2 separate regions of the Homo sapiens genome follow, and region 2 is linked to region 1. The links come from fine-mapping of genetic effects on gene expression. A gene starts in region 1. The other region holds a variant in brackets. All regions are shown on one strand. Distances are from middle to middle.

The links. PIP is the estimated chance that this variant, and not a neighbour inherited with it, causes the effect.
Region 2: its variant is fine-mapped to the expression of PNMA8A in lung (TOPMed, PIP above 0.99).

What each region holds. Positions count from the first base shown.
Region 1 is chr19:46,463,527-46,480,369 of GRCh38, forward strand. It overlaps PNMA8A (PNMA family member 8A), which reads right to left and starts at 8,037. Exons shown (of 3, transcript NM_018215.4): 1 at 7,811-8,037; 2 at 6,207-7,588; 3 at 2,977-5,051. The coding sequence starts at 7,509. The coding sequence ends at 5,035.
Region 2 is chr19:46,755,403-46,767,758 of GRCh38, forward strand. FKRP (fukutin related protein) reads left to right here. Exons shown (of 4, transcript NM_024301.5): 4 at 10-3,173. The coding sequence starts at 49. The coding sequence ends at 1,536. Among named protein-coding and RNA genes, the nearest start is that of STRN4, 15 kb to the left of the region's middle. RefSeq lists a silencer at 6,050-6,344. The variant T/A (reference allele first, on the strand shown) is at 4,726.

The DNA of each region.
Region 1 (16,843 bases):
GAGATGGCGCCATTGCACTCCAGCCTGGGCAAAAAGAGTGAAACTCCCTAAAAAACAAAAACAAAAACAAAACAAACAAAAACACTATGCTGAGGAAAAGAAGCCAGACACCAAAAAAACCATATGCTGTATGACTCCACTTACAGCACTCCTGGGACAGACACACTGAGCTTTGGCTGGAAAAATCATTACAGTGCTCACCTCTGAGAGCTGCGGCGGGGACCGACTGGGAAGGGGCACAGGGAGGCTTTCTAGGATGATGATATTGTTCTGTAACTTGTCGCAGGGGTGGGTTACACAGGTGCCTGCCTATGTCCAAACTTATCCTTATCAGACCGTTCACTTAAGATCTGTCCATTTCACTGTATATAAATGTTTTATTTTAACTAAAAAATGAAAATGTAAAAAAAAGGAATAAATGAATAAGTAAATCAACACAACCCACTTCTTTCTCCTTGGCAGCTCTGCTAACCAGATCCCCAAATGGGCAGCTTTTTCTTGGGCCTCCTGGGTCCAGCTACTGTCACCTCCCCACTAGGCTCCCAGCTGCCACCTCACCCTCTGCAGTCTGTTCCCCACCAGGCTTCCAGGGGGAGCCTGGAAACAACCTATGTAGGATCCTGACGCTGTGTTCAGCACCCTCCCATGGCTCCCATCTCTCAGATTAAAGCTGGAATCCATCCTGGCCGCACCTGTGGGGCTTTGCACACCAGCCTCCAAAGCCCCCTGCCCTCTTGCTCCTCACCTCCTCCTTGCTTTTTTATTTTTATTTTTTTGAGACAGAGTCTTGCTCTGTCGCCCAGGCTGGAGTGCAGTGGTGCGATCTCAGCTCACTGCAGTCTCAACCTCCTGGGTTCAAGCAATTCTCCTGCCTCAGCCTCCCAAGTAGCTGGGACCACAGGCACGCGCCATCACACCTGGCTAATTTTTTTGTATTTTTAGTAGAGATGGGGTTTCACCATGTTGGCCAGGCTGGTCTTGAACTCCTGACCTCAGGTGATCTGCCCGCCTTGGCCTCCCAAAGTGCTGGGATTACAGGTGTGAGCCACTGCGCCCAGCCTTACTCACTTTCTGAAACAGATTAGAGCCTCCCTCCACGATGACTGTTCCCTCTGCCCAGGAGGCCGTTCTTGGCCAACTGCTTGTCTCACCCCTCACCCCCTTCAGGTCTGTTCAGACATCCAGTTCCCAGAGAGGCTCCCCCAACCATTGTAAGCGACAGCCAGCCGTTTCTGCACACTCACCTTGCCTGCCTATCTTCCTGTTATATTTTTCACGGCAGAGCTCCCCACCCCTCCACCTGTGTCTATATAAGGTCTGTCCTCACTCAAACGTCAGGCTCCAGGAAGCCAGGACTCTGTCTTGCTCCTGGCTGTCGTACAGCAGATTCTCAACGAACCTTGCTTGAATGGCAGCATGGGCAACCAGGACACTTTGCCCTCGAGCCCTGCTGGTGGCATCCACAGCTCTCCATCTTCCTGCAAACACTCCGGGCCAGCGCCTCCCCAGACGCACCCCTGAACAGAACACCTCCACCCGGGGCGATGAGGTTTCTTTGAAGAGAGCTTTCATGTGCCCCAACCTTGGATTCCCCCCATTTTTAGGGCACGTAGGCCTTTCATACTTTACTGACAGCCTGGGTGTAACCAGTAGGAGTGACTATTATTGTGGGAGGTACTTAAACATCTTGGTCAAATAGGGCTTTTCCCATTGTGGGGGTGTGGGGGCACCCAATAAATAGAGCTTCATCCAGATGCTTCTATGAGTACACGGCAGTTCCTAACGAGCTCCGCGTCCTCAAATCCCAGCTTCCCTTTTGGTCTCTTTCGCATCTTTCCTCATAATCTCCATTCACTTTCACAAAACCTCAACCTGGACCCCTAAGGACACTTCCGTTTCCCCAAGTCTGAATTATTCCACCTGAAGCTCTCCAACCTGTATTATTAATAGAATTCTTGGCTGGGCGTGGTGGCTCACGCCTGTCATCCCAGCACTTTGGGAGGCTGAGGTGGGCGGATCACGAGGTCAAGAGATCAGAGATCGAGGCCATCCTGGCCAACATGGTGAAACTCCATCTCTACTAAAAAAAATACAAAAATATTAGCTGGGCGTGGTGGCGCACCCCTGTAGTCCCAGCTACTTGGGAGGCTGAGGCAGGAGAATCGCTTGAACCCGGGAGGCAGAGGTTGCAGTGAGCTGAGATCATGATACTGCACTCCAGCCTAGGAGACAGAGCGAGACTCCGTCTCAAAAAAAAAAAAAAAAAATTCTCAGGAGAAACTGTTTAAGACGCAGATAACTATGTACAACCCCGAAGAGATCCTGAATCAGCAGGTAGAGCCACGAAATGGTACCTTGAACAGATTCCAAGTGACTGATGTAGTGGCCACCCTGGTTCAGGAGTTCCTGGGGAGGGGCAGGGGAGGGCCAGAAGAAAACTATATTTTTAGCTAAAAGACCTCAGCTTCTGGCTTGGCATGGTGGCTTACACCTGTAATCCCAACGCTTTGGGAGGCCGAGGTGGGCAGATCACTTGAGCCCAGGAGGTAGAGGCTGCAGTGGGCTGAGACTGTGCCACTGCACTCCCACCTGGGTGACAGAGCGAAACTCCATCTCAAAAAAAAAAAAAAAAAAAGACCTTGGCTTCTGTGTGAGGGAATAGGAAGGGAGGGAAAGGTTTTCATTTTCCAGCTGTTTATAAAAAAATAAACTGGTACTTTGAGGTAATTTGCGTCACCAGATACCTATTCTAGAAACCCCAAGATCTGTGGGACATCCTTCCACATCAGTGGAAAGCCATTCGCAAAGAGGACAAACGGCTTCTTCTCTCATGGATCATTAACAATTCTCAAAGCTTGAACCCGTATCTGATAACCAGTCACATCTGGCTGGGGGCACTGTTTGAGGAAAGGGGAACCCTTTCCTCAAATTTAATAGTCCATGCAATCCTCACCTACAAGAGACTTAACAGGACACTTAATTTGCTAAACTTTATTTTATACATACACGTTTACATTTACTAGTCATGGTGTCAACTTGTTAACACAACGAAGCCCTAATGGACCCGTTTTGAAATTAGAAGCTGGACAGTTACAGGCTTTGGTCTCTTCAAGAATCCAATTCACCCCTGGGTTTCGCTTGGCACACACCCCAGGAGAACGTCGATGCACACAGCTGTGTAGCTGCAAACGGAAACCACTCTCTTTTCTCTCGTATTTTTCAGTCAGACTCACTCAGGATTTTGAAATGAATCATCACGAGAAATTTGTTTTAAAGTTGAATCACTGAGAACATCTAACAACTGTTCACATTCTTTATCACAAAAACTGAAGTCGGAAAAGACGCCCTGAAAACTTGCAAGGGCTAATACTCTATGATAGAATATTACTACTGTTCACCATGTTAATACATTTACTTACTACCATACACCTGAACAGTCACGGCAGAACAAGAGCATGTGAATGACGAAAGGAAACTTGCTTTCAGGGTGTCAGATTATAGAACATGCACAGGAATTTCTTCCACTTCTAACCTCGCTCATCAGTCACATTTACAAGAAACTCAATTTTAAGCAAAGAGATGCCTGAAATAACTAAGACGTGTACAAAAACAAGTTAACCTATGAACACAAGGTAATATTCTGATAGTCTTCGATGTGACTTCCAACATATCTGAGTAGTCACTTTTCAGTTTTTTAAACACGTGAGAAAAATAGATTTGGATTACATCTTTGTGGACGGCTACGATACAGTTTGGAAACCATTATCTCAGGGACCCTGCTCTCTCCTCTACACATGCGCACGCAAACACACACACACACACACACAATGACACATGGTGGTCTGGTCTAATATAGTGTGTCTGAATTCAGAGGGCAGACATTAACAGCCAAGTTTTGTTTTTTTGAGAGAGAGTCTCACTCTGCTGCCCAGGCTGGAGTGCCGTGGCACAATCTCGGCTCATTGCAACCTCTGCCTCCTGGATTCAAGCAATTCATCTGCCTCAGCCTCCTGAGTAGCTGGGATTACAGGCGCGCGCCACCACGCCCAGCTAATTTTTGTAGAGATGGGGTTTCACCATGTTGGTCAAGCTGGTCTTAAACGCCTGACCTCGTGATCGACCTGCCTCAGCCTCCCAAAGTGCTGGGATTACAGGCGTGAGCCACCGTGCCCGGCCAACAGCCAAGTTTTAAAAGATTTTTTTCCCCTCTTACTATAATGTGAGTAGTGACCTTCTGCTGCAAAGATGGTGACAGTTTGGTGCAAAGATGGTGACAGTTGGGTAGATGGATGGAATTAGAGCTGGGGACCTAGGAATGCCTGCGTCCTTCCCTATAATCACCCCCCTTCCCCACAGGATTCCTGAGAGGGCTCATCCCAAATGGGAATCAAAGTGCCATTTTTACTAACAGACTCTAAAACTCAAAGACTTTGAGGTCTAGGCAGACATTCTTTTTCCCTAAAACTAACTCTTGGGACCTCCTGGCTAGATAACTGGAGGATGGAAGCTGGAGACTGAAGGAGCAATAAAACCAGGTTTGCAGCGAAGGTCCTGGCTTAACTTACCCCGCTGGTTACACGAGAGGAAGGCGGGAGGAAGAATATGGCAGGGCCACCCAGCTCTTCCAAATGCCAGGGCCTGCAGAGGTCGCTGACCATTCCGAGGAGGGAGCAAGGCGTGGGGGAGAAAAGCTGAACATGGATGAGTGTAACAGTGACCCTGCTCATGCATAAAGGGGAATGAATGTTCTAGAATTTTCCCAATCCTCTTACCAACTCTCCTGCCTCCGAAGAGAAGGTGAGTAGAGAAGGCGGTGAAACGGCAGGCCTGGTAGAGAAAAGGGCATAGAGATCCACCTCCCTTCCCCAACTCCCTCCCACCCAAGACCTCACCTATCGTTTACCTCAGGGCCAGATCTCTATCAACAGGGGCCCTAAGAGAGTCCAAAGTCTTATTCAGTGACAAGAGAGAACTTGGTTGACTTGGTACTTCTTCCTTGTTCTTTCAACTCCTCAGTATGGGTGGTCCCCCAGATCAAACCTTTCTGGATTCTGCAAATAAATGAGAGAACAGATCAAGAAGGGAAGCAGAGAGGTGTCATTAGGAAATGCATTACTTCCAAGAAATTTCTGGGTCCCTGAACATTTCTATTCCCCAGCCAGGTCTCTAGAAAACTTCACCCTTAAAGCCACATACCCTGCAAACACCATAACTCCAAAGTATTAATATTTTTTTTGGGGGGAGGGGGGAACAGGGTTTCACTCTATCGCCCAGGCTGGAGTGCAGCAGTGTGATCTTGGCTCCCTGCAACCTCCACCTCCCAGGTTCAGGGAGGGTAAGAGCCCAGACCGCCCTTCCAGGAGCCCCTGAAGGCCGATGCTGGAGACATCTGGTGGGCAGATGTCTGGAGGCCAATCCCAGGCCTTGGCCTCCCCAGTAGCTGGGATTACAGGCACAAACCACCATGCCCAGCTAATTTTTGTATTTTTAGTAGAGATGGGGTTTCACCATGTTGGCCAGGCTGGTCTCGAACTCCTGACCTCAGGTGATCTGTCTGCCTTGGCCTCCCAAATCATTAAATTCTTTTTTTTTTTTTTGGAGACAAGAGTCTCACTCTCGTCACCCAGGCTGGAGGGCAGTGGCACAATCTAGGCTCACTGCAACCTCCACCTCCCGGGTTCAAGAGATTCTCCTGCCTCAGCCTCCCGAGTAGCTGGGATTACAGGTATGTGGCACCACACCCGGCTAATTTTTTGTATTTTTAGTAGAGACGGGGTTTCACCATGTTGGCCAGGCTGGTCTTGAACTCCTGACCTCAGGCGATCTGCCCACCTTGGCTTCCCAAAGTGCTGGGATTACAGGCATGAGCCACCAAGCCTGGGCCCAAACCATTAAATTCTCATCAAGGAAGATGGGTCAGATGGAGTGGCAAATGACCACAGTGACACTCATTGTGGGTTTCCTCTGCCACCTCCTGCCCACCAGATGTCTCCAGCATCGGCCTTCAGGGGCTCCTGGAAGGGCGGTCTGGGCTCTTACCCTCCTCAACTGGTGTGTCATCCACCTCCTGCCATGCACCAGGGTCCTCCTCATCACCCGCTTGACCCACCACCTCCTCGGGCTCCTCTGCCCCACCTGCCACTCCTGCTCCTCCTGCCTCATCCACTTGCTGGCACGAGCCCAGTCACTTCTGCTATCATTCTCACCATTGGTGGCACGCCGAGGAGAGCCTTCTGGCTTGGCCTTCGGACCCCTAGAGGTTGAGGCTGTTGCCTCGGCAGGCTGCTGGCCCCGAGGGGCCTTCTGATCTGATGCCTCCCTTCTTGAGCCTGGCCCTTTCTTTGGCATCACCGGCTTCTTCCTGCCATCTTCTGAGTCAACCAAGACGTAGGAGACAGGGCCCAAGCTCACCTTCTTCTTCTTCCTCATGGGAGCGGGGTTCTTGGCAGACACCCAGGCCACGGCCTTCTTCTTTGGTGGGCTTTCATGGCCACCATCTTGGTCTGACTCAGAGGCGCCTCCTGGGCTCTCGGCTTCTGCCCGGGCATCCTGAGGTGGCTCTCTGGGACCCTTCCAGGCACATTTCGCCATGGGCTTCTTCAAAGCCAACTCCTCCTTATTCACACAGGGCTTTCTGCTGCCCTTGATCGGCTCTGAGATCGCCATGCTTTCAGCATCACCCACCTCAGGATCCTCCAAGTTAGCTGTGCTGTTGGAATTGATGCCTTTGGGTTTTTTCCAGGGCACTGCTTCCTGCCTGGAGTTCTTCTTCTGCTTCTTTCTCCTGGAGCGAGACTTAGCTCCAGCCCTGCGAACCAAAGGTTTGGTAGGCTCATGCTGGTCTTCCGTGGCATTCCAGTTGTTGGGGGTCTCTGCCTTTAAGGCAGAACCCACCTCTGCTGCAAGCCCCGGTTCTTTCTTCACCTTCCTCCCTGCTGCTAAAGCCCAGGCTGCCATCTCCTCGAATTCAGCGGCCTCCTGGGCCCTGGCTTCCTCCCGGCTGCGGATCTCGGCATCCATGCAGAAGATGATCTGCACCACTGCTCCCAGAAGCACCCCCAGAGCTTCTGCCCAGTTCTCTGGGGGCTGATGCTGGTTCTGGGACAGGGTGGGGTGGTTGAGCTGGAGCAGGCGGACCACATCCTCCCAGGTGCGCCCCTCGGCATCCAGGAATTCATTCAGATTTTTTAAAAACTCGGCATCCTGGGTAGGGTCTCTACAGACCACTCTCCAGACACCACCCCTTCCTGGGAATTCACGGGGGATGGTGCTCAGATTCACACCTTCACCAACCTCAATGAGGGCAGCTTTAACATTCTCTTCCCTCACAAAAATCTTGTTGAGCACGCGGTACGGGCCCAGTGGGGAGAGGACCCCATTCAAGGTCTCCTCAATTTCTGCCTGCCCACAGTCCTCTGGGATGCCTGTGACCAACAAGGACCTGTGGATGTCCACTTCCATTCCCCTGCACCAATCCTCCAGAAGGTTCATCGCCATGGTCTTGGACATTTAGCGGCTCTGAACCTACTATGTGTAGTAAATAGTCTATCAGGTGGACGTGGGCTGCAGCGGTCTCCAAACAGTAATCCTGCAAGGTGACAAGGGAGCGAGGTCACGTTCCCAGGAAGATGACCAAGCTCACAGATCCTAGCTGCCCCCTCCGCGGCTGGCCTGCAGGAGGCCTGGCGCTTTCCCAACACCCTCCTCCCCAACCCAGGCCCCGGTGCTCACACGTGTCCCTGAATCTGCAGCAAAAGGCCCTAGGACCCTCCCCCGGGCCTGACGCTCCGCCTGCCCAGCCGGGACTTACTTGGCAGATCAGCCTCCGACCGCCCAGCCAGGCCAAGGAGACGCAGTGGAATGCAGCCGTTTCCCAGTCGCTGGCTCCGGCTACCCCGGCGCCGCTGCTAGAGGCAGAAAGGGCCAAGAAGGCGCCGTCCGCCCCCGCTCCGGCCCAGGCGGGTCACGGGGCGTCCAGACTCGATGCCGTTAGCGGCGAGAAGCCGAGGTTGGCGTCGCAGCGCGCGCCTGCGCACTGGCTCCCGCACCGCCGCTCGGGGGTCTTGGGCTGCGCAGGTGCCGACGTCTCCATGGCAACCGGGCGTGGGTTGCTAGGGCTGAGCCCGGCCGGCGCGCCGGCGCTGCAATTGGACCTAGGGAGCCGGGTGCAAGAGTGGCCTGTTCAGGTCGCAGAGCAAGCGGGTCTGGATACACTCCGGTGGCGCCTCCACGGAGGCCCTCTTTCAACCCAAGTGGGCCTCGCGAACGGGGGTTAGGTCGATGAGAAGCGCCAACACCTATGGCTGCACCCACTGACTGTATTATCCTCTGCCCCACCTGTTGGATTCACCCAACGCAACTCTTGGGAGACACTAGAAATCAAGAAAGGAGGAAAACGAGGCTTTAATCTTCTTGGGTTCCTCCAACAGCAGGTGCAGTTCCTGTTGGGCTTGTAGCCTTCTCTCTTACAAGCTGCTGGGTTCTTCCAGGAATTTCCAGAAACTTCTAGAAATTTCTTAGTCTCCTCCCCGACCCCTTCTAGCATGAGGATAATGCCTCGCCTTTTCTTGTTTCCTCAACGTGATTCAGGGCAGGTTCTTGGCATCCTCCAGGCAGGGGACAATGTTACAGCTCAGTGACTGCCCCTACAGAGAAGTGTTAGTCCAAACTGCAACCATTTTGTAAGCCCTGACTATTTTGCAGATCTTGGTCAAAGTGAAATATTCCACGGGGGTTCGGGCCAATGAGAAACATCCTGCCTAATCACCTGACCACAAGGCGGACAAAGGCCCAGCTAAAGAAACATTATCATACCCTATCGTGCAAAGGCCCAACTGAAGAAACATCCCTATCATATTCTGCTGGGAGAAAGTGCAGAGAACACCACATTCCACCAGAACAAGGGCCAGAACCGCCTCATCATGGAACCATCTTATCAACATCCTGCTGGGCAGCAAACCATACTGCTCAGACCCCTCCCACCCATAACTATAAGTACCCCCAGCCTATAAGCAGCAGTGGGCTCTGGCATTAGGCTGGTTACCCACTTCCACAGGTGTCTGCAGTATACCTGAGTTGCTGTTGAGCCGCCTTCTGTCTGTGTGTCTTTAACCCTCACCTTCCCTCCAAAACCTAACAAGGAGGGCTACCCTCTAGGCAGTGTGCTGAGAATAGCACCTCGGGGCAAGGCTGCAGTCACATTTATACCCACTTTTAATGACGTGCTAATTAAGGGGTGGGTTTTCAGAATTAGCAAATTGGCAGTAACTTATGGGTGTTGCCATGGCAATGGTAAACTGTCATGGTGCTGGCAGGCATGTCTTATGGAGAGAGGCTTTCGGTGCCTTTTCCAGGTTTTGGCCAGTCTTCAATGTGATCCTCAGTGGAGTCCCCTGGGCCTCCTACCTCAACCTTGCTGCCCATGAGCAAGAACTTTGTTAATAGTTTATTAATGCCCAGTGCTGTGGCTCACGCATGTAATCCCAACACTTTGGGAGGCTGAGGAGGGCGGATCACTTGAGCTGGGGAGTTCGAGACCATCCTGGGCAACATGGCAAAACCCCGTCCCTACCAAAAACGCAAAAAATTAGCCAGGTGTGATAGGGGTCACCTGTGGTCTCAGCTATTCGGGAGGCTGAGGTGGGAGGATTGCTTGAACCCAGGAGACCCTGTCTCAAAAAAAATAAACTAATTAATTAAGCACTCCTATGAGACTCGGTTGGACTGGCCATCTGTTTTTTTTTTTTTTTTTTTGCCAGTCCCTCACTGATCCACCTACCAATGTCCCTTCCTGGCTGTGTGATCTTAGAGAAATAATTTGACCCCGCTGAGCTTATTTCTTTTCTCTGTAATAGGAATTCTAATAAAAAATCTTCCTGATTTGGAAGTTTTGAAGATTCGGGGGGATCTCATCTGAAAGATGCATGGAAGTACAATTTGGGCCTTGGTATTCAACCAAAATCTGTTCTTTGGGTTCATTTTTGAAACTGACATTTGCAAGGCCAAATAGCCAAATGTTCATTTCACTGTCATCTCTGGCATTCCTAAATTTGGGCATCATCAATACTTGTGTGATTGCCCAAGTTTCCATCATATTTTGTGCTAAAAAGTTGTGTCATTCAAATCGTTAACCTCTGATTATTCACATAATTCACACCGAATATTCCAATAAACACTCTAGCTATGATTAAAGTCTTTAAATCTCATGTGCTTTATATGTTGAAATTCTACATATCAGTGGAAGAATGAGTGTATATTTTTAGGCAGTGGTTTAAAAACATAGCCATAAATTCTCCGACACTTCTATTGAGAAGTGACGATCTGTGTCCCCTCCTCGTGAATCTGAGCAGACTTGTGACTACTTTAACCAATGGAGTTTAGTGGAAAGGAAGCTATGTGGCTTCTCAGACTATGTTACAGAAGGGCACGCAGCTTCTTCCTCATTCACTGGAACACTTTTTTTTTTTCTTTTTTGAGACAGAGTCTCGCTCTGTCGCCCAGGCTGGAGTGCAGTGGCGCAATCTCGGCTCACTGCAAGCCCCACCTCCCGGGTTCACAGCATTCCAGGTTGGGAAGAACAATGAACAATTTTTCTGAGAGATGGCTAATCACAATCCCCCATGGGCACAATGACCTCTTTCTGCATGTAGCCCCCTCCAGCATACCCCTATGAAACTTCCAGTCCCTGCCTTTTTGCAGACAGCCCCCTTCTCTGCTGTGCTGCCCATTGCAACCGTGCAATGTATTTTCATATCTTCTCTAATAAATCTGCCTTTCTTTACCTACAACTGTCTTGGTAAATACCTTTACTGCCCACAACACCCGCCGCACCTAGTCGTACCCGTGACAGTTGGGGGTGACTCAAATGACTGAGAGCTAGAATCATCTGGGAGTTTCTTCACTCACATGTCTGGTGCCTGGGCTGAAATCCTTTGAAAGCTGGGCTCAGCTGGGAAATGTTGATGGAAGCACTGATGTGGCTTGGGCTTCCTCACAGCATGAAAACCAGAGGGTAGATCGTTGAACTTCTTATTTGGAAGCTCAAGGATGCAAGAACAAGAGTGTTCCTGTGAGGCTGGGCGCGGTGGCTCACGTCTGTAATCCCACCCTTTGGGAGGTTGAGGCGGGTGGATCTGGACGTCAGGAGATCGAGACCATCCTGGCTAACATGGTGAAACCCCGTCTCTACTAAAAATCCAAAAAAATTAGCCGGGCCTGGTGGCAAGCTCCTGTAATCGCAGCTACTCGGGAGGCTGAGGCAGGAGAATGGCCTGGCCAACATGGTGAGCCGAGGCTGCACCATGGCATTCCAGCCTGGGGGACAAGAGCGAGACTTCGTCTCAAAAAAAGAAAGAGAGGCCGGCGCGGGCTCACGCCTGTAATCCCAGCACTTTGGGAGGCCAAGGCGGGCGGATCGTGGGTCAGGAGATCGAGACCACCCTGGCTAACATGGTGAAACCCTGTCTCTACTAAAAATACAACAACAACAACAAAAATTAGCCGGGCGTGGTGGCGGGCGCCTGTAGTCCCAGCTACTCAGGAGGCTGAGGCAGGAGAATGGCGTGAACTCGGGAGGCAGAGCTTGCAGTGAGCCGAGATCACGCCACTGCACTCTAGCCTGGGCGACAGAGCAAGACTCCGTCTCAAAAAAAAAAAAAAAAAAAAAAGTTACTCTAGAGAAGTATTTGGGACCCCCATGGGAATGAGATGCGTCTACCACCGTAACAGGAGGGACCTCTGCATCCAGGACATCTGGGTCCAGGAACGCTAGTAGGAGTGAAGGTAGAAAAATGAAGACGGGCTGGGCACGATGGCTCACGCCTGTAATCCCAGCACTGTGGGAGGCCAAGGCAGGCAGCTCACCTGAGATCAGGGGTTCAAGACCAGCCTGACCAACATGGAGAAACCCTGTGTCTACTACTAATACAAAAATTAGCCGGGCATAGTGGTGCATGCCTGTAATCCCAGGTACTTGGGAGGCTAAGGCAGGAGAATCGCTTGAACCCAGGAGGCGGAGGTTGCGGTGAGCTGAGATTGTGCCATTGCACTCCAGCCTGGGCAACAAGAGTGAAACTCCGTCTCACAAACAAAAAAAAAAAGTAAATTATTTTTTGAAAAATAAATATAGGTTAAAATAGTGAATTTTATGTTATGTGTATTTTACTACAAAAGTGAACAAATAATGCGTTACAGAATGGAGAGATGGGGGGCAAGGGAGGGAGAGAGATGCCTTCAGCTTTGCCTCAAAAGCCAGGTTTCAGCTTTCTGCAGAGCCAATATTCCTAACAGTCCTGGCTGCCCCTTCAGGAATGCCACCCAACCCCAGTGCATGAGCACAGAATCAAAGTTCTGGAACTTTCTCTTCAAAGAGAAAACAAAACATCTCAGTGTGTTTGAAAATTCTGCTAAGGATTTGTCAGACCAAAAAAAAATAATAATAAAAAAATAAAAGAAGAAGAAGAAAATCGTCAATCTAGACAGGATAAAAAGTAAATTTATACCAGCAGTGGATTGTAAAACATCATAACTAAAATGAAATGGAATGGATGTTTGCTGAATCTCAGAGGCTTTTGCTATGTTTGCCAAGTAGTTTTACAAATGCGGGAGCTTGTTTGTGATCCAGGCTGCAGACAAAGTTGCTGCAGTGGAAACTGAGTCACACAGTGACTCAGTTAGAATTAGACACTGTCTGTTTTTTCTTCTCTCTTTTTCAGTTATTTATTTTGGCATGCAAGGGAATGACAGACACTGAGTTTTGATAAATACTGGATTTTTAAATGCAATAATCCTCCAAGTGACTATCTCTGGGGAGAAGAAGAGGGCAAGTCATATGGGAGGTAGGACACAGCCTATTTAAACAATAATTTTGTTTAAAGATGTGTAAATAAATTTAGCATAGTATTAAGATTTAATAAAGAATGGCAAGGGATACATAAGGGTTAATTATATAAATCTCTTTTTTTTTTTTTTTCTGAGACAGAGTCTTACTCTGTCCCCCAGGCTGGAGTGCAGTGGCGCACTCAGCCTCCACCTGCAGGGTTCAAACGATTCTCCTACCTTAGCCTCCTGAGTAGCCGTGATTACAGGCACGTGCCACCATGCTGAGCTAATTTTTGTATTTTTAGTAGAGAAGGGGTTTCCCCATGTTGCCCAGGCTGGTCTCAAACTGCTGACCTCAAGTGATCCGCCTGCCTCGGCCTCCCAAAGTGCTGGGATTACAGACATGAGCTGCTGAGTCCAGCCAATAATGCTAAAAAAAAAAAAAAAAAAAAAAAAAAGGTGTAAATAAATTTAGCATAGTATTAAGATTTGATGAAGAATGGCACGGGATGCATGAGGATTAGTTATATAAATATCAATTCTTTTTTTTTCGAGACTGAGTCTCACTTTGTCACCCAGGCTGGAGTGCAGTGGCGCGACCTCGGCTCACTGCAGCCTCTGCCTCCTGGGTTCAAGCAGTTCTCCTGCCTCAACCTCTCAAGTAGCTGGGATTACAGGGACCCGCCACTATGCCTGGCAAATTTTTGTACTTTGTTTTGTTTTGTTTTGTTTTAAGACGGAGTCTCGCTCTGTCACCCAGGCTGGCTTGCAGTGGCGCGATCTCGGCTCACTGTAAGCTCCACCTCCCGGGTTCACGCCATTCTCCTGCCTCAGCCTCCCAAATAGCTGAGACTACAGGTGCCCGCCACCACGCCCGGCTAATTTTTTGTATTTTTAGTAGAGATGAGGTTTCACCATGTTAGCCAGGATGGTCTCGATCTTCTGACCCCGTGATCCGCCCGCCTCGGCCTCCCAAAGTGCTAGGATTACAGGCATGAGCCACCACACCCAGCTTTTTTTCTTCTTGAGACAGGATCTTGCTCTATCTCCCAGGCTACAGTGCAGTGGCAGGATCACAACTCACTACAGACTCAACCTCCTGGGCACAAGCGAGCCTCCTGCCTCAGCCTCCTGAGTAGCTGGGACCACAGGCATGCACCACCACGCCCAGCTAATTTTTAAAATTTTTTTGTAGGGCCAGGGTATCACTATGTTGGGTAAGATGGTCTCCAACTCCTGTCTCAGCCTCCCAAAGTTCTGGAATTATAGGCATGAGCCACCGTGCCCAGTCAATTCTCTATTCTTGACTTTGAGTTTGGAATATTCCACAATTTTTATTTTATTTTATTTTATTTTATTTTATTTTATTTTATTTTATTTTATGAGATGGGGTCTCACTCTGTCACCCAGGCTGGAGTGCAGTGGCTTAATCACAGCTCACCGCAGCCTTCATCTCCTGGGCTCAGGCAGTCCTCTTGACTCAGCCTCCCAGGTAGCTGGGACTACAGGCATGTGCCACCACACCTGGCTAATTTTGCATCTTTAGTAGAGACAGGGTTTCTCCATGTTAGTCAGGCTGGTCTCGAACTCCCGACCTCAGGTGATTCACCCGCCTCAGCCTCCCAAAGTGCTGGGATGACAGGCATGAGCCACTACACCTGGTTTTTTTTTTTTTTTTTTTTTTTTTTTTTTTTTTTTTGAGACAGAGTCTTGCTCTGTCTCCTAGGCTGGAGTACAGTGGCGCACTGCAACCTCTGCCTCCCAGGTTCAAGCAATTCTCCTGCCTCAGCCTCTCAAGTAGCTGGGACTACAGGCGTGCACCACCACACCTGGCTAATTTTTGTACTTTTAGTAGAGATAGGGTTTCATCATGTTGGCCAGGCTCTCAAACTCCTGAGCTCAAGTGATCCTCCCGCCTCAGCCTCCCAAAGTGCTGGGATTACAGGCATGAGCCATTTCATTGCATCTGGCCATGTTTTTGCCATTACTTTCAATGGCAAAAACTGCAATTAATTTTGCCTCAGCCTAAATATTATAAAGGTACAACTATGTGTGTATATGTGTGTGTGCGTGTGTGTGTGAAGTGGAGTCAGCTGCCTGCCTGCTCTCCCATTAAAGAGCCACAGTGATTGCTAGCTGATTTAAAAATAGTTCAAGCACCCTTAACAGGAATCATTACAGTGGTTTCCATGACAACACGATGTGCTGTGGTTTCCAAGGCAACAACTGGCACTGTGGTTTCCATGACAAAGCATCCCTGCAGCCCCAACCCTCCCCTCCATCTCTGCACTTCCAGTTTAGGGTTCTCCTTCCATCCTCTTCCGCTGTGTTTCACCTTTGAGTTTTTATTTTGCCCTGCTGTGTATGTTCAGTGAGAACCCACAGAGTTTCCATAAACACTGAACCCAAAGAAAGTCCAGGGGGCTCTGGGATCCCGCCTAGATGTTTCCTCCTGAGTCAGTTGCAACAACCCATCATGGTGGTTCTGTGACTCAACCTGGCTGGCTCTGTCCAATTTGTTCTGTGAGAGCCCCTTCTTGCTGCAGAGTTTCCTTTTTTAAATTATTTTTTTTCTTTTCTTTTCTTTTCTTTTTAATTGAGGCAGAATCTTGCTCTGTCACTCAGGCTGGAGTGCAGTGGTGCGATCTCAGCGAGGATTACAGGTGCATGCCACCATGCCCGGCTAATTTTTGTATTTTTAGCAGAGGCAGGGTTTCACCATGTTGACCAGGCTGGTCTCAAACTCCTGACCTCAGGTGATCTGCCCGCCTCGGCCTCCCAAAGTGCTGGGATTACAGGTGTGAGCTACCATGCCTGGCTTTATTTTCTATTATATCTACGTGTGTGTGTGTCTCCTAGGTCACAGCAAAATGTATTTCTTATCACGGATCATGATCAAACACATGTGACAGCCACTGCCATAGGTTAATTACCGAGTCCCCTATGGATGGCTATGCAGGTCGTTCTCTATTTTCCGGTCTTTCAAATGAAGAGCTGAGAAGGGCTGGTGGCTGATGCCCTACAGACATCTATGTTGCTTGGATTCAGGTGTGACTTCTTAACTTGTTTGAAAATATGGCCGGGCGCGGTGGCTCACCCCTGTAATCCCAGCACTTTGGGAGGCTGAGGCGGGTGGATCACGAGGTCAGGAGATCGAAACCATCCTGGCTAACATGGTGAAACCCTGTCTCTACTAAAAAAAAAATACAAAAATGTAGCCGGATGTGGTGGCAGGCGCCTGTAGTCCCAGCTCTTCGGGAGGCTGAGGCAGGAGAATGGCGTGAACCCGGGAGGCGAAGCTTGCAGTGAGCCAAGATTGTGCCACTGCACTCCAGCTTGGGCAACGGAGTGAGACTCCGTCTCAAAAAACAAAAAATAAATAAAATATGATGCTTTTCAAAAGTTACAGTGTCAGCTGGTTGCAGTGGCTCACGCCTGTAATCCCAGCACTTTGGGAGGCTGAGGCGGGCAGATCACTTGAGGTCAGGAGTTCGAGATTAGCCTGCCCAACATGGTGAAACCCCGTCTCTACTAAAAATGCAAAAATTAGCTAGGCATGGTGGCCCATGCATGTAATCCCAACTACTCAGGAGACTCAGGAGAATCGTTTGAACCCGGGAGGTGGAGGTTGCAGTGAGCCAAGATCACACCACTGTACTCCAGCGTGGGTGACAGAGCAAGACTCTGTCTCAAAAAATAAAATAAAATAAATGAAATAAAATAAAATAGCCCGAGATGGGAGGATTGCTTGAGGCCAAGAGTTCAAGGCTAGGCAACATAGGGAGACACCTGCCCTCCCACCAACCCTGTGTCTATTTGTAAGATAAAAAATTAAAAACGGCCGGGTGCAGTGGCTCATGCCTGTGATCCCAGCACTTTGGGGGGCCGAGGCGGGTGGATCATGAGGTCAAGAGATCAAGACCATCCTGGCCAACATGGTGAAACCCCGTCTCTACTAAAAATCCAAAAATTAGCCAGGCGTGGTGGCAGGCACCTGTAGTCCCAGCTACTCGGGAGGCTGAGG
Region 2 (12,356 bases), 290 kb after region 1:
CTCCCCCAGGATGCCCCGGAGGCCCAGCTAGCCCCAGACTTCGGCCCCATGCGGCTCACCCGCTGCCAGGCTGCCCTGGCGGCCGCCATCACCCTCAACCTTCTGGTCCTCTTCTATGTCTCGTGGCTGCAGCACCAGCCTAGGAATTCCCGGGCCCGGGGGCCCCGTCGTGCCTCTGCTGCCGGCCCCCGTGTCACCGTCCTGGTGCGGGAGTTCGAGGCATTTGACAACGCGGTGCCCGAGCTGGTAGACTCCTTCCTGCAGCAAGACCCAGCCCAGCCCGTGGTGGTGGCAGCCGACACGCTCCCCTACCCGCCCCTGGCCCTGCCCCGCATCCCCAACGTGCGTCTGGCGCTGCTCCAGCCCGCCCTGGACCGGCCAGCCGCAGCCTCGCGCCCGGAGACCTACGTGGCCACCGAGTTTGTGGCCCTAGTACCTGATGGGGCGCGGGCTGAGGCACCTGGCCTGCTGGAGCGCATGGTGGAGGCGCTCCGCGCAGGAAGCGCACGTCTGGTGGCCGCCCCGGTTGCCACGGCCAACCCTGCCAGGTGCCTGGCCCTGAACGTCAGCCTGCGAGAGTGGACCGCCCGCTATGGCGCAGCCCCCGCCGCGCCCCGCTGCGACGCCCTGGACGGAGATGCTGTGGTGCTCCTGCGCGCCCGCGACCTCTTCAACCTCTCGGCGCCCCTGGCCCGGCCGGTGGGCACCAGCCTCTTTCTGCAGACCGCCCTTCGCGGCTGGGCGGTGCAGCTGCTGGACTTGACCTTCGCCGCGGCGCGCCAGCCCCCGCTGGCCACGGCCCACGCGCGCTGGAAGGCTGAGCGCGAGGGACGCGCTCGGCGGGCGGCGCTGCTCCGCGCGCTGGGCATCCGCCTAGTGAGCTGGGAAGGCGGGCGGCTGGAGTGGTTCGGCTGCAACAAGGAGACCACGCGCTGCTTCGGAACCGTGGTGGGCGACACGCCCGCCTACCTCTACGAGGAGCGCTGGACGCCCCCCTGCTGCCTGCGCGCGCTGCGCGAGACCGCCCGCTATGTGGTGGGCGTGCTGGAGGCTGCGGGCGTGCGCTACTGGCTCGAGGGCGGCTCACTGCTGGGGGCCGCCCGCCACGGGGACATCATCCCATGGGACTACGACGTGGACCTGGGCATCTACTTGGAGGACGTGGGCAACTGCGAGCAGCTGCGGGGGGCAGAGGCCGGCTCGGTGGTGGATGAGCGCGGCTTCGTATGGGAGAAGGCGGTCGAGGGCGACTTTTTCCGCGTGCAGTACAGCGAAAGCAACCACTTGCACGTGGACCTGTGGCCCTTCTACCCCCGCAATGGCGTCATGACCAAGGACACGTGGCTGGACCACCGGCAGGATGTGGAGTTTCCCGAGCACTTCCTGCAGCCGCTGGTGCCCCTGCCCTTTGCCGGCTTCGTGGCGCAGGCGCCTAACAACTACCGCCGCTTCCTGGAGCTCAAGTTCGGGCCCGGGGTCATCGAGAACCCCCAGTACCCCAACCCGGCACTGCTGAGTCTGACGGGAAGCGGCTGAAGCCCTGATAACCTCGCCTTTGTTTTTCGGGGGTCTGTCTGGATGTGGAGAAGCTCTGTGTGAGCGGTGAGGGGTGGAGGGATGTCGCGGAGAGGGGAAGGGGGAAACTGACCAAGAAAGAAATTCTAAGGAGAGCATGAGAGAAGGCTGGCATTGGCAGGAGGAGAGCACCAGGACGAGGATGGGAAGCGACCTCCAGATTTATCAAATGGTCATGCCCACTGGGAGCCGTGGATATGCGTGGGGACATCCTGGGTCATCTCAGTCATGGAGGGAGACGGGGATGTCACGCCGTCCCGCAGGGCCCAGCACAGCCCCAGACCCGAAAAAAGTGTTCTGCCCAAGATTCCGAGAGCCCTGCGCTCTAGGGCAGGGGCAGAGTTTTGGAAACAGTGCAGGCTCTGGAGCCAGACTGGCGAGATTCAAATCCTGGCTCTATCGCTTCGGAGCCAGGTGGGCCTGGGGGGGCGTCGCAGTCTCTCTGTGCCTCAGTTGCTTCCAGGATGCGGGACCCTTGGCTGCAGGGGTTGCTTCCGCCACTAGAGGGCGCGCCGGTCCCGCTCCTGGTGGCCCACTGTGGCTGCCCGGGCGACAGTACGCCCAGGGCCTGTGTTCCATAGCCATCTACTCTCTTGAGCCTTTGGACTTCTCTCCAAGCCCCTGTGGGAGGCGGACAGCAGTGACCACCTCCCCTTCTTTTGGACTGCGACCTCCTTCCCTCCTGGGAGAGCCCTGTGACCTGCATGCTACTCTTAACTGTTCTATTCAAGACTGAATAGAAGTATTTCAGTCTTGCAGAGGAGGAAATGCTCAGAGCTCCGAGGTGCGGCTGTGGTCGAGAACCGGGTGCTGGGCCGGGCGCGGGGGCTCACGCCTGTAATCCCAGCACTTTGGGAGGCCGAGGTGGGAGGATCGCTTGAGCCCAGGAGTCTGAGACCAGCCTCGGCAACATGCCAAGACCCCGTCTCTATTTTTAAAAAAGAAAAAGAACCGACTTCTGAATCGCAGCTCCACTCATGACTAATACCTCATTATTTCAGCTGTCTGCACCTAATTCCCCACTTGCACGGCAGTGTAGACAATAACCATAGCTCACACTCACTGAGCACCTACTGGGTACCAGGCACCATTCTCAGTGTTTCACCTGGATCAACTAATGCGTCCCTCACCTCAGCCCTCTGAAGTGACAGCTGCTATTATTTTCATTACACAGATGAAAAAGCTGAGGCCAGAATCGTGAAGTCACTTGCTCAAGGTCAGGCAGCTTAGGAAGGGGCAGATCGGGGGCTTGAACCCAGGTGGTCAGGCTCTGGAGCCCACAATTGTCTTACCCACTATGCCCCTCTCTAGTCATGGTCCCCAAGAGGGGCTTGGAGACCCACTTAGCAGGTGAAAGCAATGGCAGCCTTCCTTATTTGATTATGCACCTAAGAATAAATGGTATTTGGGCATGTATTCCCAATATGTGTATATTTATTTATAAATATATACAGATACTATTATCTGTATGTTAGTAATAAAGCTTAAATTATTCCATTTTAAAATTATGAATATGAATAGGGTTTTTTTTATGTTTCTTGCCTCATCCCAATGACTTTTGCACACCCAGGTGTGAGCACCCAGCATTCAAGACCACGGGTTAAAAAAAAAAAAAAAAAGCTGGCCGGGCGTGGTGGCTCACGCCTGTGATCCCAACACTTTTGGGAGGCTGAGACAGGAGGAACACTTGAGCTCGGGAGTTCGAGACCAGCCTGAGCAATAGAGCAAGACTCTTGTCAATTAAAAATAATAAATAAAGCCAGGCATGGTGGCTCACGCCTATAATCCCAACACTTTGGGAGCCCAAGGCGGACGGATCACAAGGTCAAGAGATCGAGACCATCCTGGCTAACACAGTGAAACTCCGTCTCTACTAAAAATACAAAAAATTAGCTGGACATGGTGGCGGGCACCTGTAGTCCCAGCTACTCAGGAGGCTGAGGCAGGAGAATGGCATGAACCCGGGAGGCGGAGCTTGCAGTGAGCCAAGATTGTGCCACCGCCCTCCAGCCTGAGCAACAGAGCAAGACTCCATCTCAAAAAAATAAAATAATAAATAAGAGGCAAAATGTTAAAAATAAGCAAGGACTGGGCACAGTGGCTCATGCCTGTAATCCCGGTACTTTCGGAAGCCAAAATTGGAGGATCCTTTAAGGCCAAGAGTTCAAGATCAGCCTGGGCAACATAGCGAGATCCCCTGTCTCTACAAAATAATAAAAAAATAGCCACTGTTTTAGTCCCTTCTCATGCTACTAATAAAGACCTACCTGAGACTGGGTAATTTATAAAGGAGGAAAGGTTTAATCGACCCACAGTTCAGCACGGCTGGGGAGGCCTCATGAAACTTACAATCATGGCAGAAGGGGAAGCAAACACATCTTGTGATGGCAGGAAGAAGAAGTTCCAAGCAAAAGGGGAAAGTTCCTTATAAAACCATTAGATCTCATGAGAACTCACTATCACGAGAATAGCATGGGGGTAACTGCCCCCATGATTCAATTACCTCGCACCCAGTCCCTCCCACGACACATGGGGATTATCAGAACTACAATTCGAGATGAGATTTGGGTGGAAACACAGCCAAACCATATCAGCCAGGCATAATGGCATGCACCTGTAGTCCTAGCTACTGGGGAGGCTGAGGCAGGAGGATTGCTTAAGCCTAGGAGATCAAGACTGCAGTGAGCTCTGATTGCACCTCTGCACTCCAGCCTCGGCAACAGAGCATTATCCCATCCCCCCACAAAAAAAAAGAAAAAAAGAAAAGACATGGGCTTGAGGTTGGAGAGGACCGGGTTTCCCAGTGCTGCCACCTTCTCCCAGGGCCTCTATTGACTCTGTCTCTGCGCCCCCACCTTGCATTTGGGAAGTGGAAGCAATGAGATCGCTCCTCCCACAGGAGTGTGTTCGCGGTAAAGGGGCCCAGAGTCTGGCTGGGTTTGAATCCTGGCTTGGCCACTTGGTTTCTTTGTACTCTCAGACAAGTCGCTGCCTCTCTGAACCTGTAAACTGGGGAGATTGGTAATATTTCACAATTGTACATTCCTGGGAGGAGGAGGCTTCATAGACCAGCAAGAGAAGATTACTGTTTGGCCGAGTCTCCTGAGGCTCAGACATCCAAAGCCTGACTTCTTGTAACCCAACCCCTGC[T/A]TTTAACCACTGAACCCAAAAATGGTTCACAAAGAGACTTGGCAGGTCCACAGGGAGGATTCTGGAATGCATGGGGATGATTTGCATTATCATCATGACTGGAAGCTGCTCTTGGCTCTTGGCAGACGTGGTCCAGGGATGCAGATGTCTTGTAATATTCAGGAATCTCCACACAGTACAGCATCATCCCTTGTCTCATGCAGCTTCCAGATGTCTCATTGGACATTCACGAAGGAAGGGTAATATTCAAAATGTTTTGCCACTGGTACTGTAATATAAATTAGTATATGTCAATGTATGCATCAAATTTTTAAAATATTTTAGGCCAGGCATAGTGTAATCCCAGCACCTTGGGAGGCCAAGACAGGAGGATGGCTTGAAGCCAGGAATTCGAGACCAGCCTGGGCAACATAGAGAGACCCTCATCTCTACAAAACATTTCAAAAATTGAGCAGGGCGTGGTGGTTTACACCATTAATCCCAGCACTTTGGAAGGCCGAGGCAGGTGAATTGCTTGAGCCCAGGAGTTCAAGACCAGACTAGGGGCCAGGCGGGGTGGCTCATGCCTGTAATCCCACCACTTTGGGAGGCTGAGGCGGGCAGATCACTTGAAGCCAGGAGTTCAAGACCAGCCTGGCCAACAAGGCAAAACCATGTCTCTACTAAAAATACAGCAATTAGCTGGGCGTGGTGGTGCACCCCTGCAGTCCCAGCTACTCAGGATGCTGAGGTGGGAGGATCACCTGAGCCCAGGAGGTCAAGGCTACAGTGAGCCATGATCATGTCACTGCATTCCAGCTTGGGCAACAGAGTGAGACCCTGTCTCAAAAAAACAAAAATCCTTATTATCACCTAAGTTATGATATGACAAAGATCTGTCACAATTAACTTGAACTAATTCATTTTTATTCAAATATGTATTGAATTTCAGTGCTTTCTCAACTACTCTTGTACTATTATTATCCAGTCAGAAGTATTTCAGTATTTTAACAACCAGTATTGGCCAAGTATGGTGACTCACGCCTGTAATCCTAGCACTTTGGGAGGCCGAGGTGGGTGGATCACAAGGTCAGGAGTTCAAGACCAGCCTGGCCAATATGGTGAAACCCTGTCTCTACTAAAAATACAAAAACTAGCCGGGCATGGTGGTGGGCGCCTGTAGTCCCAGCTACTCAGGAGGCTGAGGCAGGAGAATCGCTTGAACCCAGGAGGCGGAGGTTGCAGTGAGCCAAGATCATGCCACTGCACTCCAGCCTGGGTGACAGAGCGAGACTCTGTCTCAAAAACAAACAAGAAAGAACAGTATTTCCATACTAGTTCAGACCAACTAAATTTTAGCCTTACTTGGAGGTGAAAACCCTGGCCAAAAATCTCTCTCTTGTACGTACAAAGTCCTTTTTGTTTTTAAATAGCCTCGGAATCTTCCAGGAAGTGCAACTACCACAAAAAATGAGGGAAGCTTGTATCGTGTTTTGTTCAAAACTTGGCCAAAGGTTGTCCACCATGTGAAAAAACTCACATTGCACATGGCTCTTGGTAATTGGACACCAGTCCACGTGTTTTCAATGTGTTGGAACTGTCTATATTACAGGCATAAACATCTGCCTACCTCCTTGGGTTCTAGGGGACTGGCTCCACACATCCGCATAATGAAATGCTTATTGTAAGTTACTATGTTCTTATTTCTCCTTTTTATTACATTTAGGGCAATCAAGGATCGTTTTTGTTGCTGCTGCTGTTGTTGTTGTTTCTGAGACAGGGTCTCACTCTGTCACCCAGGCTGCAGTGCAGTGGCACAGTCTTGGCTCACTGCAGCCTCAACTTCCCAGGCTCAGGCGATTCTCCCACCTCAGCCTCCCGAGTAGCTGGGACTACAGATAAGTACTACCACACCCAGCTTTTATATATATATATATATAAATATATTTATATATATAATGTCTCTACTAAAAATACAAAAATTAGCTAGGTGCGGTGTCGCACGCCTGTAATGCCAGCAGTTTGGGAGGCCAAGGCGGATGGATTACTTGAGGTCAGGAGTTCGAGACCAGCCTGGCCAACATGGTGAAACCCCATCTCTACTAAAAATACGTGTGTGTGTGTGTGTGTGTGTGTGTGTGTGTGTATTTTAAGTAGAGATGGGGTTTCACCATGTTGCTCAGGCTGGTCTCAAATTCCTGGACTCGAGTGATCTGCCCACCTTGGCCTCCCAAAGTAGGATTTTCTTAAATCATGTTAAATCATGTGCCAGTGGGTTATACTGTCTATGAACTTCATTTCAGGAGAACAGAGAGAACTTTCCCAGAACTGACATTCAAGCCAGCACACGCCCTGGTATGGCCACGCCAGTGGTTAAGACAGCAAAACACTAAATTATGGATTATTTACTCATTCATAAACGGTCACTGCCATGAACCCCCTGACTATTAGTATCCTCCTAGCTCTCCCTGGGGATCCCCTGGGCTGCCCTCTGGCCCAGAAGTCCAGGGGTTAAACTGGGTATAGTGGGAGATAAGAGGGACCCATATCCCGGATGTTGGATGGACTGATGACTTTGCCAAGCAGTAAATATTTTGTCTATCAGCCCTACATGTTACAAAATATTTGCTATGAACAATAGTGGCATGTAAAGACCTGTCTACATTAGCCAGGTGTGGTGGCTAATGCCTGTAATCCCAACGCTTTGGAAGACCAAGGCTGGAGGATCACATGAGCCCAGGAGGTGGAGGCCACCCAGGGTAATATGTTGAGACCCTGTCTCTACCAAAAAAATTTAGGAGGGGCGAGTGGCTCATGCCTGTAATCCCAGCACTTTGGGAGGCTGAGGCGGGCAGATCACTTGAGGTCAGGAGTTTGAGACCAGCCCAGTCAACATGGTGAAACCACGTCTCTACTAAAAATACAAAAATTAGCCAGGTGTGGCGGCTCACACCTGTAATCCCAGCACTTTGGGAGGCCGAAGAGGGCGGATTACTTGAGGTCAGGAGTTCAAGACCAGCCTGAACAACATGGTGAAACCCCATCCCTACTAAAAATACAAAAATTAGCCGGGCGTGATGGTGGGTGCCTGTAATCCCAGCTACTCAGGAAGCTGAGGCAGGAGAATTGCTTGAACCTGGGAGGTGGAGGTTGCAGTGAGCCGAGATTGCACCACTGCACTCCAGCCTGGGCAACAGAGCAAGATTCTGTCTCAAAAATAAAATAAGGTAAATAAAAAATAAAAAACCTGTCTACAAATGCACCTTTATGCACAATAGCCCCAACCTGGAAACCATCAGATGTAAATCAACAGGTGGGTGGATAAGCAAACTGTGGTACACTCAGACAACATAATACTCCTTAGCAAGTTTTTTAAAAAAGGAAAGAACTGGGCCGGACGTGGTGGCTCACGCCTGTAATCCCAGCACTTTGGGAGGTCGAGGCGGGCCGATCACCTGAGGTCGGGAGTTCAAGACCAGCCTGACCAACATGGCAAAACCCTGTCTCTACTAAAAATACAAAATTAGCTGGGCATGGTGGCACATGCCTGTAATCCCAGCCACTTGGGAGGCCAAGGCAGGAGAATCACTTGAACTCGGGAGGCGGAGGTTGTAGTGAGCCGAGATTGTGCCATTGCACTCCAGTCTGGGCAACAAGAGTGAAACTCCATCTCAAAAAAAAAAAAAGAAAAGAAAAGAAAGAACAAACTACTGATACATGCAAAAATAAGAATAAATCCCAAAAGCATTATGACACATAAAAAAAAGCCAGATGCAAGACGCTACATAGTATATGATTCCACCAATGTAAAATTCTAGAAGAGGTAAAACTAATTCATAGTGACCAAAAGCAGATCAGTGGTTACCGGGGCCTGGAGCTGGAGAGAGGGGCAGACTGCAAAGAAGCATGAGGAAATTTGGGGATGATGAGAATATCATGTATCTTGATTATGGGAGTGGTTTTTCACAGTATATTCATCTGTCAAAACTCATTTAACTGTATTTTATTTATTTATTTATTTATTTTGAGACAGGGTCTCGCAGCATTGCTCAGGCTGGTCTCAAACTCCTGGGCTCAAGCGATCCTTCTGCCTCGGCCTCTCAAAGTGCTGGAATTACAGGCATGAGCCTGGCCTAATTGATTTTAACGGGTGCAATTTATCATATGAAACAATTTTTTTGGAGCCAGCCTTGCTCTGTTGCCCAGGCTAGAGTGCAGTGGTGCAGTCTTGGCTCACTGCAACCTCTACCTTCTGGATTCAAGTGATTCTCATGCCTCAGCCACCTGAGTAGCTGGGATTACAGGTGTGCACAACCACACCTGGTTAATTTTTGTATTTTTAGTGGAGATGGAGTTTCACCATGTTGGCCAGGCTGGTCTTGAACTCCTGGCCTCAAATGATTTGCCTTGACCTCCCAAAGTGCTAGGATTACAGGTGTGAGCCACCTTGCCCGGCCTATTGTATGTAAATTATACCTCAATAAAGTTGACCTCAAAAAGAGCAGATGGGGGCAGAATCCAACAGGCCTAAGAACATTGACCTGTCTCTAAGAGAGACAAAACTGAGTCACTGCCCTCTGCCTTTCTGTCCCCATACTGCCACTCTGAGCCTAGAACCCAGGACCAACCCTAATCCGGGGCCAGCCTGGGCCCTCCTTCCTGGGCCAAGCTCCTTCAAAGAGGCAAGAGGGGTGGGTGGGGCAATGGAGAAAGGGAGAGAAAGGTGGGAGCTGGGAACTGGGACCCAGGGAGTGACCGTCAAAGTGCCTTTTCTTCTGCTCTTACGTAACCTGCACTAGCAGCCTTTGGGTGAGGCATAAGAGAGCCATTGTCACCGGCGGGTGAGACCTGGCAGTGCTCATCCAAGGTCACATAGTTGCCAGGCAGCAGAGTCGAGACTGAACCAGCCTCTTCCACCATTCCACGAGTGTTTATTGAGCTCCTGCTATACGCATGCACCGGACCCTATGCTAGACTCTGAGCCTACAGCAGTGAACAATTCAAAGATGGTTCCCCCACAGAGTGACCTTCCCAGTGGGGACAGGCAGGAAACAATAAACATCATAAACCAGTGAATTCTATCGTCTGTTGGGAGGGGACTGTTGCTATTAAAAAAGGAGAACAGGGCAGGGCACGGTGGTTCACAACTATAATCCCAGCACTTTGGGAGGCGTAGGTGGGAGGATCCTTTCAGCCCAGGAGTTCAAAACCAGCCTGGACAACATACAGAGACTGTGTCGCTACAAAAAACAAAAATTAAGAAAAAAAAATAGCTGGGCAGGGTAGCATGGGCCTATAGTCCCAGCTACTTAGGAGGCTGAGGTGGGAGTGTCACTTGAGCCTGGGAGGTCAAAGCTGAAATGAGCTGTGATCATGAAACTGCATTCCAGCCTGGGCAACAGAGCAAGACCCTGTCTTTAAAAAAAAAAAAAAAAAGTAGAGCAGGCCTGGCGTGGTGGCTTATGCCTGTAATCCCAGTACTTTGGGAGGCCGAGGTGGGAGGATTGCTTGAGCTCAGGAGTATGAGCCTGGCCAGCCTGGGCCATAGAGCAAGACCCCATCTCTGTTTGTTTGTTTGTTTGTTTGTTTGTTTGTGACAGGGTCTATCTCTGTCTCCCAGGCTGGAGTGCAGTGGCGCGATCTTGGCTCACTGCAACCTCTGCCTCCCGGGTTCAACAATTCTCATGCCTCAGCCTCCCGAGTAGCTGGGATAACAGGCGCCCGCCACTACACCCAGCTAATCTTTGTATTTTTAGTAGAGACAGGTTTTTGCCACATCTCTCGAACTCCTGACAGCGAGTGATCCACCTGTCTCGGTCTCCTAAAGAGCTGGGATTACAGGCGTGTACCACGACACCTGGCTAATTTTTGTATTTGTAGTAGAGACAGGGTTTCGCCATGTTGGCCAGGCCGGTCTTGAACTCCTGGCATCAAGTGATCTGCCTGCCTCAGCCTCCCTAAGTGCACAGATTACAGGCATGAGCCACTGCGTCTGCCCAAGACCCCATCTCTTAATAAAAAAAAAAAAAAAAAAAAAAAAAAAGAGGAAAAGGGCTGGGCGTGGTGGCTCACGCCTGTAATCCCAGAACTTTGGGAGGCCTGAGGTGGGCAGATCACGAGGTCAGGAGATCGAGACTATCCTGGCTAACATGGTGAAACCCCCGTCTCTACTAAAAATACAAAAAAAAAAAAAAAAAAAGCCGGGTGTGGTGGCGGGCGCCTGTAGTCCCAGCTACTCGGGAGGCTGAGGCAGGAGAATGGCGTGAACCCGGGAGGCGGAGCTTGCAATGAGCCGAGATCGTGCCACTGCACTCCAGCCTGGGCGACAGAGCGAGACTCCGTCTCAGAAAAAAAAAAAAAAAGAGAAAAGGGTAGAATAGGGTATGGGTTGGGTGGGTGAGGGTGGGGGCAGGAAGCAGGGGTGGTAGAATTAAATAAAGCGGTCAGAGAAGGCTCACTGAGGTGACATTGCAGCCAAGTCGAGAGGGAGGTGTGGGAAGAGCCAAATGGAAATCTGGGGGGCAGAGCAGCCAAGAGAGGAACAGCCTGTGCAAAGGCCCTGAGGCACCAGCAGGCCTGGCATGTTCAAGGAATGGCAGAGGCTGGAGTAAGAGAGGGAGGAGGAGAGTGGGAAGAGGTGAGGTCGGTGAAGTAAGGCGCATCCTACAGAGGCTATGGGGAGCACCTTGGATTTTTCTCTGGGTTCTGAGCTGCGGAGGGCCACGAGCTGCCATGATGGAAACAGGCGCCCTCTGGAGGCCATATGGGGAACAGACGGAAGAGGTTGGGGCTCAGGAGTCCCGGCGTGAAGGCAATTGCAATAGTTCAGGTGGGAGATGATGGCAGCTGGCCAGGGTGGTACCCAGTGTGGAAGGTGTAGAGGGGCCAGATTTGGGGTTTGAGGGCAGAGAAACTGAGATTTCTGGTAGCTTGAATGTGGGATATGACGGGCAGAAGGAGGGCGTAGCAGGGGAAGGAAATAAAGTGGCTTGTTCTGTATGTGACTGGAGCCCAGCTCCTTGCACCAACCCGGGCTCCTGCACCCCTCAGCAGGCCCAGGGATCCCCACCGCCAGGCCGGAGCCAACCCCATGGAACCCAAAGTGCTCAAGCTCCCCAGTGAATGAGGCTCTTAATGTATCACCGCCCGTCAGGCCTGGCCTGGCATCCGGGTTTCTCCACCTGCGGGGTGCAGGGGCCACATTGGTGGGTTCCAGATTCCAAGTTCCAGTATTTGGAGGAGGTGGCAGAGGAGGGCCCCCACCCCACCGTTTTCATCTTTCACCCAAGATTTGCACAGGTTTCATTTTAATGACAGTCCACTGTCTGTTTGTTAGTTAGCTTTGAGATAGAGTCTCACTCTGTTGCCCAGGCTGGAGTGCGGTGGCAAGATCTCAGCTCACTGCAACCTCCGCCTCCTGGGCTCAAGCGATTCTCCCACCTCAGGCTCCTGAGTAGCTGAAACTACAAATGTCCAGATAATTTTTTACATTTTTAGTAGAGACGGGGTTCCACTATGTTGGCCAAGCTGGTCTCAAACTACTAACCTGAGATGATCCACCTGCTTCGGCCTCCCAAAGTGCTGGGATTACAGGCATGAGCCACTGCGCCCAGCCACCCAGCCACTGGTTTTAAAAAATGTTTGACACTGGG